Regions from separate parts of the Homo sapiens genome. Here region 2 is linked to region 1. Evidence: fine-mapped expression QTL. A gene starts in region 1. The other region holds a variant in brackets. All regions are shown on one strand. Distances are between the middles of the regions. Region 1 holds the start of RNASEH2C (ribonuclease H2 subunit C). Region 2 overlaps POLA2 (DNA polymerase alpha 2, accessory subunit).

Region 1 (5,373 bases):
GTGAGATTAGTGAAATCACCAGCATCAAGAAGGAGGATGTCATCTCCACTCTGCAGTACCTCAATCTCATCAACTACTACAAGGTAGGGAGGCAGGCAGGGGAGACAGGTGTGTGGGATGCAGAGTGCAGTCCTCTGTGGGCTGACCACCTGCTGAACCCATCTCCTCTGCCCAGGGCCAGTACATCCTCACACTGTCAGAGGACATCGTGGATGGCCATGAGCGGGCCATGCTCAAGCGGCTCCTGCGGATCGACTCCAAGTGTCTGCACTTCACTCCCAAGGACTGGAGCAAGAGGGGGAAGTGGTGACCAGACACTGCCCACTGCAGTGCCAAGACGGCAGCAGGACTGGGGCTGATAGCCCACCCCGCCCCCACTGCAGCTCCCACAAAGCACTCTAAGGGAGATGGGGCTGAGGACAGCTCAAAAAGGAGAGGACAGGCCTGGCAGGGGCCCACTGGTGCCCAGCACCAAGGCGAGCTCCGGGCTCAGACCAACTCCAAGGTCAGCTGGCCACAGGCCCAGGCCTCCTCTGAAGCAGGGACCAGAGGGAGCCAGGCAGCTGTGTACAGTGAGAAGGGATCCGGATGGGGGAGCTCTGTACAGAGGGCTGGTGATTGTAAAAATTTCTTTTGTAAAGTAGAAGTTGGGGGTGGGGTGGGTGCTGGCTGCAAAAATTTCTGGCTTCTCTTACCCCTATTGCCCCCGGCAATAAATTGTTTCTATATGCCAGAGCCATGCAAAGTTCTTGGTGGGGAGGGGGAAAGGGCCCATGCTGGCTTAGGGGCTCTAAGGCGCCCAGACTCACAGGTGCTGTGAAGAGCTCCTTTATTGGGGTGATGGAATCGGTTCCAAAGAGCTGGTTTACTGCTGTGAAGGGATCGCAGCTTTGAATTTCAAGCTCTGGTTCTCAGTCCTCGGGCACCTGTGCGTGAATCTGCAACAGGAGTCGCCTCTACTGTTGGACTTGTAAGACAGGGCGGCAAGCTGGCCCCCATACCCGAGGAAGGACCCAGCTGTTCAGAATAACCGCTTCTAGACATGCTAGGAAGAGTGGTCAGGGAGCTACGCTTCCCACACACTACCCAGTAGAATCCTCCAGGCTCCGTCTGCGCAATTGTGCTCCCCAGCCCATCCACCCGGGGGCAAGACGGAACTCCTCGTCTACTCACCGCTGCCGCAAGGCTGGGCCAAGTTAAGGCCCCACGCACTTTGGCATCCGGGCCAGGGATGGTCTCCAGACCCCACAGGGTGAAGCGGCTGAAGTTGGCAGTGGCTCCAATGAAGCGGTCCTGGGGAAGGGGCCTGGCTCAGCATCGGGACTACAGCTCCCGCCCGCACCCCCTTTCAACCCTATCCCTTTGCTCACGAAGTCCCGCTCCAGCGGCTCCTCCTCTTGGTCGTCAGTCCCGGAATCCCGCAAGGGGTCTGGCTTCCCCATCGACACCTTCTTCTCTTCTGTCACCATCACGTATCCCACGAGGCCAGGCGGCACCGCCACCTCCTCTCCCCGTAGACAGCGGCCCCGAAACGACACTTCGAGTCCTGGAGCGGGAGGCGCAAAGGGCCTCAGGCAGGACCCACGCTGGGTCGAGCCCGGAGCTGCCCTCCCGCCACCTCCGGACGGACCACGATCCCCAGGAGCCCAGGCGATGAGAAGCGCGCAGGCCGGCGCGGGGGCTGCCGGGAGCCGTAGTCCGGCCGCAGGGCTCACCCTCGGGGCCCTGGCGGATGGCGGGCGTGAAGAAGCGCCCCACCGGGGCGGGCCCGTCCACCGCAACCTCGCAGGGCAGCAGATGCAGTGTGGCGGGTACGGCGTCGCGCAATGTGGCGGAGCGCAAGTGGACGCGGTGCCTCTCGATGGCCGCTTCGTCGCCGCTCTCCATCCTCCCTCCTACGCGACGCCAGGGCTCGCGAGCTGACACTGAAGCTGGCGCGGAAAGCGCGCAGGACCTCTCAGGAAGCCTCCGCGGGGCCTCACGGGAAGCCGCCGCGGAGCTTCACGGGAAGTGTAGTCCCCTTACCCCCTAACGCTTTCCCTGGGTTCAAGTCCTAGGGTTTTCCAGTTGTGTTTTGTTTTTTTCCTTCCTTCCTTCCCCCCTCCCCTCTTTCCTCCCTCCCCTCTCCCCCTCTCCTTCCCCCTCCCCCCTCCTTCCCCCTCCCCCCTCCCCCTCCTCCCTGCCTCCCTTCCTTCCCCCCTTCCCTTCCCTTCCTTCCCGTCCTTCCCTCTTTCTTTCTTTTTCTTATTTATTATTATTTTTTTTTGACAGAGTCTCGTTTTGTCGCCCAGGCTGGAGTGCCAGGCACGGTCTCAGCTCACTGCAACCTCCGCCTCCCGGGTTCAAGCGATTCTCCTGCCTCAGCCTCCGGAGTAGCTGGGATTACAGGCGCACACCACCATGCCCACCTAATTTTTGTATTTTTAGTAGAGACTGGGTTTCGCCATGTTGGCCAGGCTGGTCTCGAACTCCTGACCTCAGGCGATCCTCCAGCCTCGGCCTTCTGAAGTACTTGGATTACAGGCGTGAGACACCGCCCCCAGCCGGGTTTTTTTCTTTTATTGTTTTTAATGGCACATGTCGTTGTAAAAATCTAAAACGATTCTGAAAAGTACTCTTTTTATATTGATTAGTAGGTAGGTTATTCATTTTTAGTTTATTAGGGACATCAACCCTTTTCTTAAATGCATTGAAAATGTTTTATCTGTGGTCTGTCTTGCAAACCTGTGTAAAGGTGATTTTTGCTGGACAAGGACTTATTTTTGTGGTTGTTTGGTCTTTTAGACAAGGTCTCACTCGCCTAGGCTGGAGTGCAGTGGTTTGATTGGCTCACTGCAGCCTCGACCTCCCAGGCTTAATCCATCCCCCATCCTCAGCTTCCTGTGTAGCTGGAACCACAGGCCTGCGCCACCACGCAGCTAATTTTTGTATTTTTGGTAGAGGTGGAGTTTTGCCATGTTGCCCAGGCTGGTCTTGAACTCCTGGACTCAAGTGATCTGCCCACCTTGGCCTCCCAAATCACGCTGGAATTACAGGCGTGAGCCACTGCACCCAGGACAAAGACTAATTTTTTGTAGTCAAATTTATCAACACTTTTCAGTCTTTTAGATTTCACAATTTTCTCTCTTTGGTTTCTCAGCTCTTCTCTAATGTTTATTTGTTCAGACACCCAACTTAGATATATTTTTTCAAGTTCTCACATAAAACAAACACAAAACTGGAAATTTAGATTTAAATTGCGTTTAATTTATACATCCCTGCACATCTGGGAGCTGGCCTTGGTATTCTGTTGAATATAAACAATTTCAGAGAACATCAGCATCGGACAAGGTCACTCTGTGACCGTGAGGGAGCAAGACAGAAACAGAACCACTCCATCGTCACATCTGAATGCTGGCAAAGGTGAACACTGTCCAAACCACAAAAGGCATGAAACATCCCTCTTTCTCCCATAAGAGAGTGACTGTTGTTTCCTTACCAATTACAGCATTAGCCTCCAACTAATCTTCTCTCCTTCTGGGCAAGACTCATTAAGATAGTCCGTCATAGACATACCCCCACCTCTGACAGCATCCAAGCCAGAGAGAAGCCTGGCTTCCCTAAACCCTGACTGAAATCACTGAACATGGGCACAAATCCTCCTATAAGTCCTTTCTAGCACCCTCTTATTGAAATTCCCCAGAGTGCAGGAGTAATATACCCAATTTGTTCAACTGCAGATGTATTCCTGGTGCTCTTTCACTAGAGTGGCAGATTAATTTAGAAAAAGGCTTGCTTTAGTTTTCTATCAGGAAAGACATAATTCAATTTATTCACATCTCCTTGGATATCTGTACAGTTGTGAGGTTTTGTTCATATATAATAGCTATTAATACATATTGTAAAGTTTATTTCTTCTTAGCTTATATTAATAATTGTTTCTATTAAGAACTGAGGGGCTGGGCATGATGATTCACACCTGTAATTCCAGTGCTTTAGGAGGCCAAGATGGGGGAGGATTGCTTGAAGCCAGGAGTTTGAGACCGGCCTGGGAAACATAGCAAGACTCCGTTCCTACAAAGAAAAAAATTTTTTTAAACATGAGTGGGGCACAGTGGCATGTGCCTGTAGTCCCAGCTACTCAAGAAGCTAAGGTGGGAAGATCACTTAAGCCAAGGAGTTTGAGGCTGCCGTTCGAGTCACGATTGCACCACTGCACACCAGCCTGGGTTACGGAGGGAGACCCTTTCTCTAAAAACCAAAATTGGGGCTTTTATTTTTTTCATTTTATTTTCTAACTGATTTTCTTTTTAATCTATAGCAGGGGTTGGCAAACTTTTTCTGTAAGGGGTCAAATAGTAAATATTTTAGGTTTTGTGGACTTTATGGCTTCTGTCGCAGCTACTCAACTTCACCGTTATAGCATGAAAGCAGTCATAGACAATACATAAATGAATGAGCGTTGTTGTGTTCCAGTAAATCTTTGCAGAAACAGACAAGGGGTTGGATTTGAACCACAGGCCATAGTTTTCAGACCCCTTGTCTATAGCAAACCTGTTGATTTTTATATGTCCATTTTTAAACTAGATATCGACTGAATTATTTTGTTCCTAATGATTTTTATTTTATTTTAAGATCCCCAGAATTAGTCACCTCTCTTTCAAATAATAATTTTTACCTCACCATTACATCTTCTTTTTGTTTTTTGTTTTTTGTTTTTTTTTTTTCATTACACCTTGTAATTTGTTTTCTTTTCTAATTGCCTTGGCCAGTACTTGCAGAACAGTCTCTCAAATGTTACTGGTATCAGAGGACAACATTGTCTTTTTCCTGAAACTTTCACGGGAGTGCTTCTGCTGTTTCACCAATAATCATGAAACTGCCTTTTGACTTGTTATATATGTCTCATTAAAGCTGTACTACTAAGAGCTTTTAAAAATTGGGAGTAGATGTTGGATCTTATTTTTTATTTTTATGTTTTTGGTTTTGCAAGTTTCCTGTAGTCTGGATATTAGTAATTGCATTCCTATAGTGTCAAGGTAATCTATACCTGTATTTTCTGTAATTACATCTAGAAGCTTAATTCGATTCTTTGGGGAGGGGAGAGGGCAAGACTACTTCATGGGTGGTTTTGTGTTTTTCCCTCTTTTTGTGAGGTTAGCAGCCATAGATGATCATTGCCTAGATCCTTTAATTCATTAGAGGTTAAAACGCGTGTGTACGCGCACACACACACACACACACACATATTTTTGGGACAGAGTCTCACCTGGTAGCCCAGGCTGGAGCGCGGTGGCGCGATCTTGGCTCACTCAGCTCAACCTCTGTCTCCCGGGTTCAAGCAATTCTCCTGCCTTGGCCTCCTGAGTAGCTGGGATTACAGGCGCATGCCAC
Region 2 (5,373 bases), 440 kb before region 1:
GAGGCCAGGAGTTGGAAACTAGCCTGGGCAACATAGGGAGACCCTGTCTCTACTAAAAATTAAAAAAAATATTAGCTGGGCTTGTGGTGCATGCCTGTAGTCCTAGCTAATCAGAGGCTGAGACAGGAGGATTGCCTAAGCCCAGGAGTTCAAGGTTGCAGTGAGCTATGGTAACACCATTTTACTCCAGCCTGTGTGACAGAGCGAGACTCTGACTCTTAAAAAAAATTAAAATTAATTAATTTTTTGAAAGTATAATGTGGCATCCTGGATTGGATCCTTGAAGAGAACGGGAACATCAGTGGAACAACTAGCAACATCTGAATAAAGCCAGGAATTTACTTTTTTATTTTTCTGGCTCTAACACTCAACCTCGAGAATCCAGGAATTTAGTTAACAGCGATATACCAGCATTAATGCCTTAATTTTGACAAATGTTCATGGTTACCTAACATGTTAAGATTAGGGGCCACTGGTGAAAGACACACAGGAACTCTGTACTATCTTCATAACTTCTCTACAATTCTAAATTTGTTCTAAAGTGAAAACTTAAAAATAACTTCCTTTTTTTTTTTGAGATGGAGTCTCGCTCTGCCCCCCAGGCTGGAGTGCAGTGGCAAGATCTTGGCTCACTGCAAGCTCCGCCTCCCGGGTTCAGGTGATTCTCCTGCCTCAGCCTCCTAAGTAGCTGGGATTACAGGCGTACACCACACCCGGCTAATTTTTGTATTTTTACAAAACCCCATAGTGATGGGGTTTCACCATGTTGGTCAGGCTGGTCTTGAACTCCTGACCTTGTGATCCGCCTGCCTTGGCCTCTCAAAGTGCTGGGATTGCAGGCATGAGCCACCATGCCCGGCCAAAAAGAATTTCTTTAAAACCCTAGTGTTATGTGGTAACTAATCTAGTTGTGGAAAGGCAAAAAGAAAGTTTGACAAACTTTGCTTCTAAATATTTCAACATAATTTCAGCACTTCACAGGGCTGAGGTGGGAAGATCACTTGAGCCCAGGAGTTTGAGACCAGCCTGGGCAATATGGCGAAAACCTGTCTCTACAAAAAAAAAAAAAAAATTAGCTCGGCATGGTGGCATGTGCCTGTGGTCCCAGCTGCTCAGGAGGCTGAGGTGCGGGGATCACTTGAGCCTGGGAAGTCAAGGCTACAGTAAGCCGTGATCATGCCACTGCACTTCAGCATGGGTGAAAGAGTAAGACACTAGATAGATAGATAGATAGATAGATAGATAGATAGATAGATAGATAGAATTTATTTATTTCAAGGTGGCCAGGTGTGATGGCTGACTTCTGTAACCCAGCACTTTGGGAGGCCAAGGTGAGAGAATTGCTTGAGCCCAGTTTAAGTTTAGCCTCCCGGCACATAGTGGGTCTGCATCTCTACAAAAAATAAAAACAAAAAAAATCAGCTTGGTGTGGTTGTGCACACCTGTATAGTCCCCACTACTTGCGAGGCTGAAGTAGGAGGATTGCTTGAGCCCAGGAAGTCAAGGCTGCAGTGAGCCATGATTGTGCCATTGCACTCCAGCCTGGGTGTCAGAGTGAGACCCTGTCTCAAAAAAATATATGTATGTATTTCTGTATTTCAAGGCATTGTTTTTTTTTTCTTTTTTTTTTTTTTAGACAGAGTTTCACTCGTTGCCCAGGTTGTAGTGCAAGGCGCCATCTCGGCTCACCGCAACCTCCACCTCCCGGGTTCAAGCGATTCTCCTGCCTTAGCCTCCCAAGTAGCTGGGATTACAGGCATGCACCTGTAATGCCTGGCTAATTTTTGTATTTTTAGTAGAGATGGGGTTTCTCCATGTTGGTCAGGCTGGTCTCAAACTCCCAACCTCAGGTGATCTGCCCGCCTCGGCCTCCCAAAATGCTGGGATTACAGGCATGAGTCACCACACCCAACCCTCAAGGCATTTTTGTAAGCACAGTGGAGCACTGTTAAGGATTAGCAACCAGATCACTGATACTAGCATGTTGTCAACACCCCATGCATGTAACAGTGGCCAGAGCCATTCTTGGAGATGACCTAGAATCAGGAGTGAAATTTAGGACCTTGTGATATTGCACATTTTATCAGAAAACACAAGTTTGGCCGGGCGTGGTGGCTCATGCTGGCGCAGGAGGATTGCTTGACCACAGGAGTTTGAGAGCAGCCTGGGCAACATGGTGAAACCTCATCTCTACAAAAAGTACAAAAATTAGGCCAGG[C/T]GCAGTGGTTCACCCCTGTAATCCCAGCACTTTGGGAGGCCGAGGTGGGCGGATCACACGGTCAGGAGATAGAGACCATTCTGGCCAACAAGCTGAAACCCCATCTCCACTAAAAAATACAAAAATTAGCTTGGCTTGGCAGCGTGTGCCTATAATCCCAGTTACTCAGGAGGCTGAGGCAGGAGAATCGCTTGAACCTGGGAGGTAGAAGTTGCAGTGAGCCGAGATCGCCAATGAACTCCAGCCTGGCGACAGAGCTAGACTCTGTCTCAAAAAAAAAAATTAGCTGGGTGTGGGCATGGTGGCATGTGCCTATAGTCCCAGCAACCTGGAAGGCTAAGGTGGGAGGATCACTCTCCTGAGTCCAGGAGTTCAAGGCTGCCATGAGCCATGATCATACCACTACTGCACTCCAGCCTAGGAGTGAGAGTGAGATCCTATCTCAAAAAAAAAAAAAAAAGAAAAAGAAAAAAAAGAAAATACAAATTTATAGGGGGCAAGGGTGGCATGCTGGTATTAGGTCAACTTCAGGTAATGAAATCAACCTGGCTGAGATACCAGGAGCCTGAGCTGTGTACCAGAGAAGCCTTTGGAAACAGTTTAACAGGTTGTTAATGAACTTTTGTACAAGGAATTAAATGAGGCACTCATGGAGATACAGAATAAGACATGGCCCTCGCCCTCCAGAGACTCACTGCTTACACTGGGGCTCACATCTCCTGTAGGCTTCTCAGAGCCAAACTTAACTTTGTCCCCTACCCCACCACCACATGAAACCTGCTCTTCACCTTGAATGCTCTGTCAGTTCATGGTATTATTACCATGATAGACTGAATCACAGCCCCAGGAATCCCTGGAACCTGTGAATATTTTACCATTTGTGGTAAAGGAGACTTTGCCCGTGTGATTAAGTTAAGGCTGTTGAGATGGGGGATTAGCCTGGATTATCCAGGTGGGTCCACTATAATCACAAGGGTCCTTATAAGAGGAATGGCAAGAGAATCAGAGTCAGAGCTTAGAAATGTTAGGCTGCTGTGATTTGAGGAAGCCTAAAGAAAAATTTTATTTCAAAATAGAGAAATCTTAGGCTTCTGGCTTTGCCGCTGCAGGTGGGGCCATGAACCAGGGAATGCAGGTGGCCTCTGAAAGCTGGAAAAGGCAAGGAAATGGATTCTTCTCTAGAACCTCCAGACAGGAGGAACTCAGCCCTGCCCACACCTTCAGTTTAGGATTTTTGACCCCTGGAACTGTAATATAATAAATTCGTGGGCTTTTTTTTTTCTTTTTTTTTGAGACAGTCTCACTGGAGTGCAGTGGGCATGATCACAGCTCACTGCAGCCTCAACCTCCCAGGCTCAAGCAATCCTCCCACTTCAAGTAACTAGAACTATAGGCTCAGGAGGTACGCACCACTCTGCCCAGCTAATTTTTGTATTTTTTGTAGAAACAGGGTTTCATTATGTTGCCTAGGCTGGTCTCGACCTCCTGAGCTCAAGGGATCCTCCCGCCTTAGCCTCTCAAAGTGCTGGAATTACAGGCGTTGAGCCACCACACCTGGCCAAATTCGTGTTGTTTTAAGGCACTAAGTTTGTGATAACTTGTTATAGCAACAATAGGAAACTAACACAACAGCATGTTAAGAAGCCAGGGATCTTTGGATTTTGTTGTTGTAAGCCACAGAAACTGGCTCAGACTAACAAGAAAGCAGGAATTTATTAGGGGAGATCCAGGTAGCTCACAGACTGGACACGTGGCTAGAAACCGAGGCTTGGAACCAAGATGAGAGCCCAGGAACTCTAGCATCCAGGTAGCAGGAATTCCCCAGCTGTCTCATCTGGGCACCTCAGCTGGAATAGGTTAGCTCTAATCTTTTTTCTCTCCTTGGATCGTTCACCTCAAGATTGCAGACCCTGGGAGGAGAGTGTGAATGGCCTTGTGCCATTCTGGGTCATGTGCCTGCCCTTGGCTAGAGGAAGACAGAGCACCCAATTTACAGCCCCATGTAGACTGCCTTGTGGAGGGATGGGCTGATTCTCCAAAAGGAAAGCAGCTGCTGTTAGGAAAAAGGCAAAGCGTGATGGGTGGCCCCTGCACCCCATCACCCTGGAGTCTCCCGTTCCAGTCTCCCATTCCCCGGCCTGTCTTTCTGGGCTCTTCAGTACCCCACATTCTCCAGCCACACTGGACGACCAGACATTTCCTAACACTGAGCACACTCAGGTCTCAGTGCTATCCTGTACCCTGCCTTGCCCTTGATCCCCAAAAATTCTCAAACGTGTTAGCAAATTCCACCTTGGTAAATTCTTTCCTGACTGCCACTTTCCTCGAATCTTTCATGTGCACAGCTCATAAAGTTTCTACTGCATGTTCTAGGTATTCGTGTACCTGCCTGTCTCTGTCTCTATCACCTAGTGGAGTGTTCTTGGAGGGTGGACATGAGGTCTTCCTTACCTTGGGTCCCCAGAGTTTCACACATAAAGGACTCAATGAGTTAAATCCTGTGGCATTTCCCATCATTGTCCTTTCTCCTCCCACCATTCTAATACTAGTCCTCTTCTAATCAAGACCTATAACCTCTGTCTTAGACTTTGAGCAAAGCATGGTCCTGGTTGCCTGTGGACCATACACCACATCTGACAGCATCACGTATGACCCCCTGCTTGACCTGATTGCTGTCATCAACCATGACCGGCCAGATGTCTGCATCCTGGTAAGAGGCACCAGTGGGAAAGCTGAGGAGTCAGCCTTGGAAAATGGCTTTAATGAAGTTCTAAATTTTTAGGAAGCATGTCAGTCCCTCCTCCTTTTAGAAAATATCTTTTCATTCTTAATCTACATCTTTGGAGAGGTATATATATCTATGGGCCTTTGCTAGATTTAAAAGCCCAACTTTGGCCGGGCGCAGTGGCTCACGCCTGTAATCCTAACACTTTGGGAGGCCGAGATGTGTGGATCACTTGAGGGCAGGAGTTCTAAGCCAGCCTGGCCAACATGGTGAAACCCCATCTCTACTAAAAATACAAAAAAATTAGCTGGGCATGGTGGCAGGCACCTGTAATCCCAGCTACTTGGGAGGCTAAGGCAGGAGAATTGCTTGAACCTGGGAAGCAGAGGTTGCAGTGAGCTGAGATTGCACCACTGCCCTCCAGCCTGGG

Evidence for each region. PIP is the estimated chance that this variant, and not a neighbour inherited with it, causes the effect.
Region 2: its variant is the best candidate, but not a certain one, in a credible set for the expression of RNASEH2C in whole blood (Lepik 2017, PIP 0.55).

Annotation. Positions count from the first base shown.
Region 1 is chr11:65,718,872-65,724,244 of GRCh38, forward strand. RNASEH2C (ribonuclease H2 subunit C) reads right to left here and starts at 1,927. Exons shown (of 4, transcript NM_032193.4): 1 at 1,716-1,927; 2 at 1,371-1,546; 3 at 1,174-1,293; 4 at 1-938. The coding sequence starts at 1,887. The coding sequence ends at 912. It overlaps KAT5 (lysine acetyltransferase 5), which reads left to right. Exons shown (of 13, transcript NM_182710.3): 12 at 2-83; 13 at 176-733. The coding sequence ends at 310. RefSeq lists a silencer at 1,613-1,852 and an enhancer at 2,003-2,072.
Region 2 is chr11:65,282,913-65,288,285 of GRCh38, forward strand. It overlaps POLA2 (DNA polymerase alpha 2, accessory subunit), which reads left to right. Exons shown (of 18, transcript NM_002689.4): 11 at 4,804-4,928. Among named protein-coding and RNA genes, the nearest start is that of POLA2, 24 kb to the left of the region's middle. The variant C/T (reference allele first, on the strand shown) is at 2,219.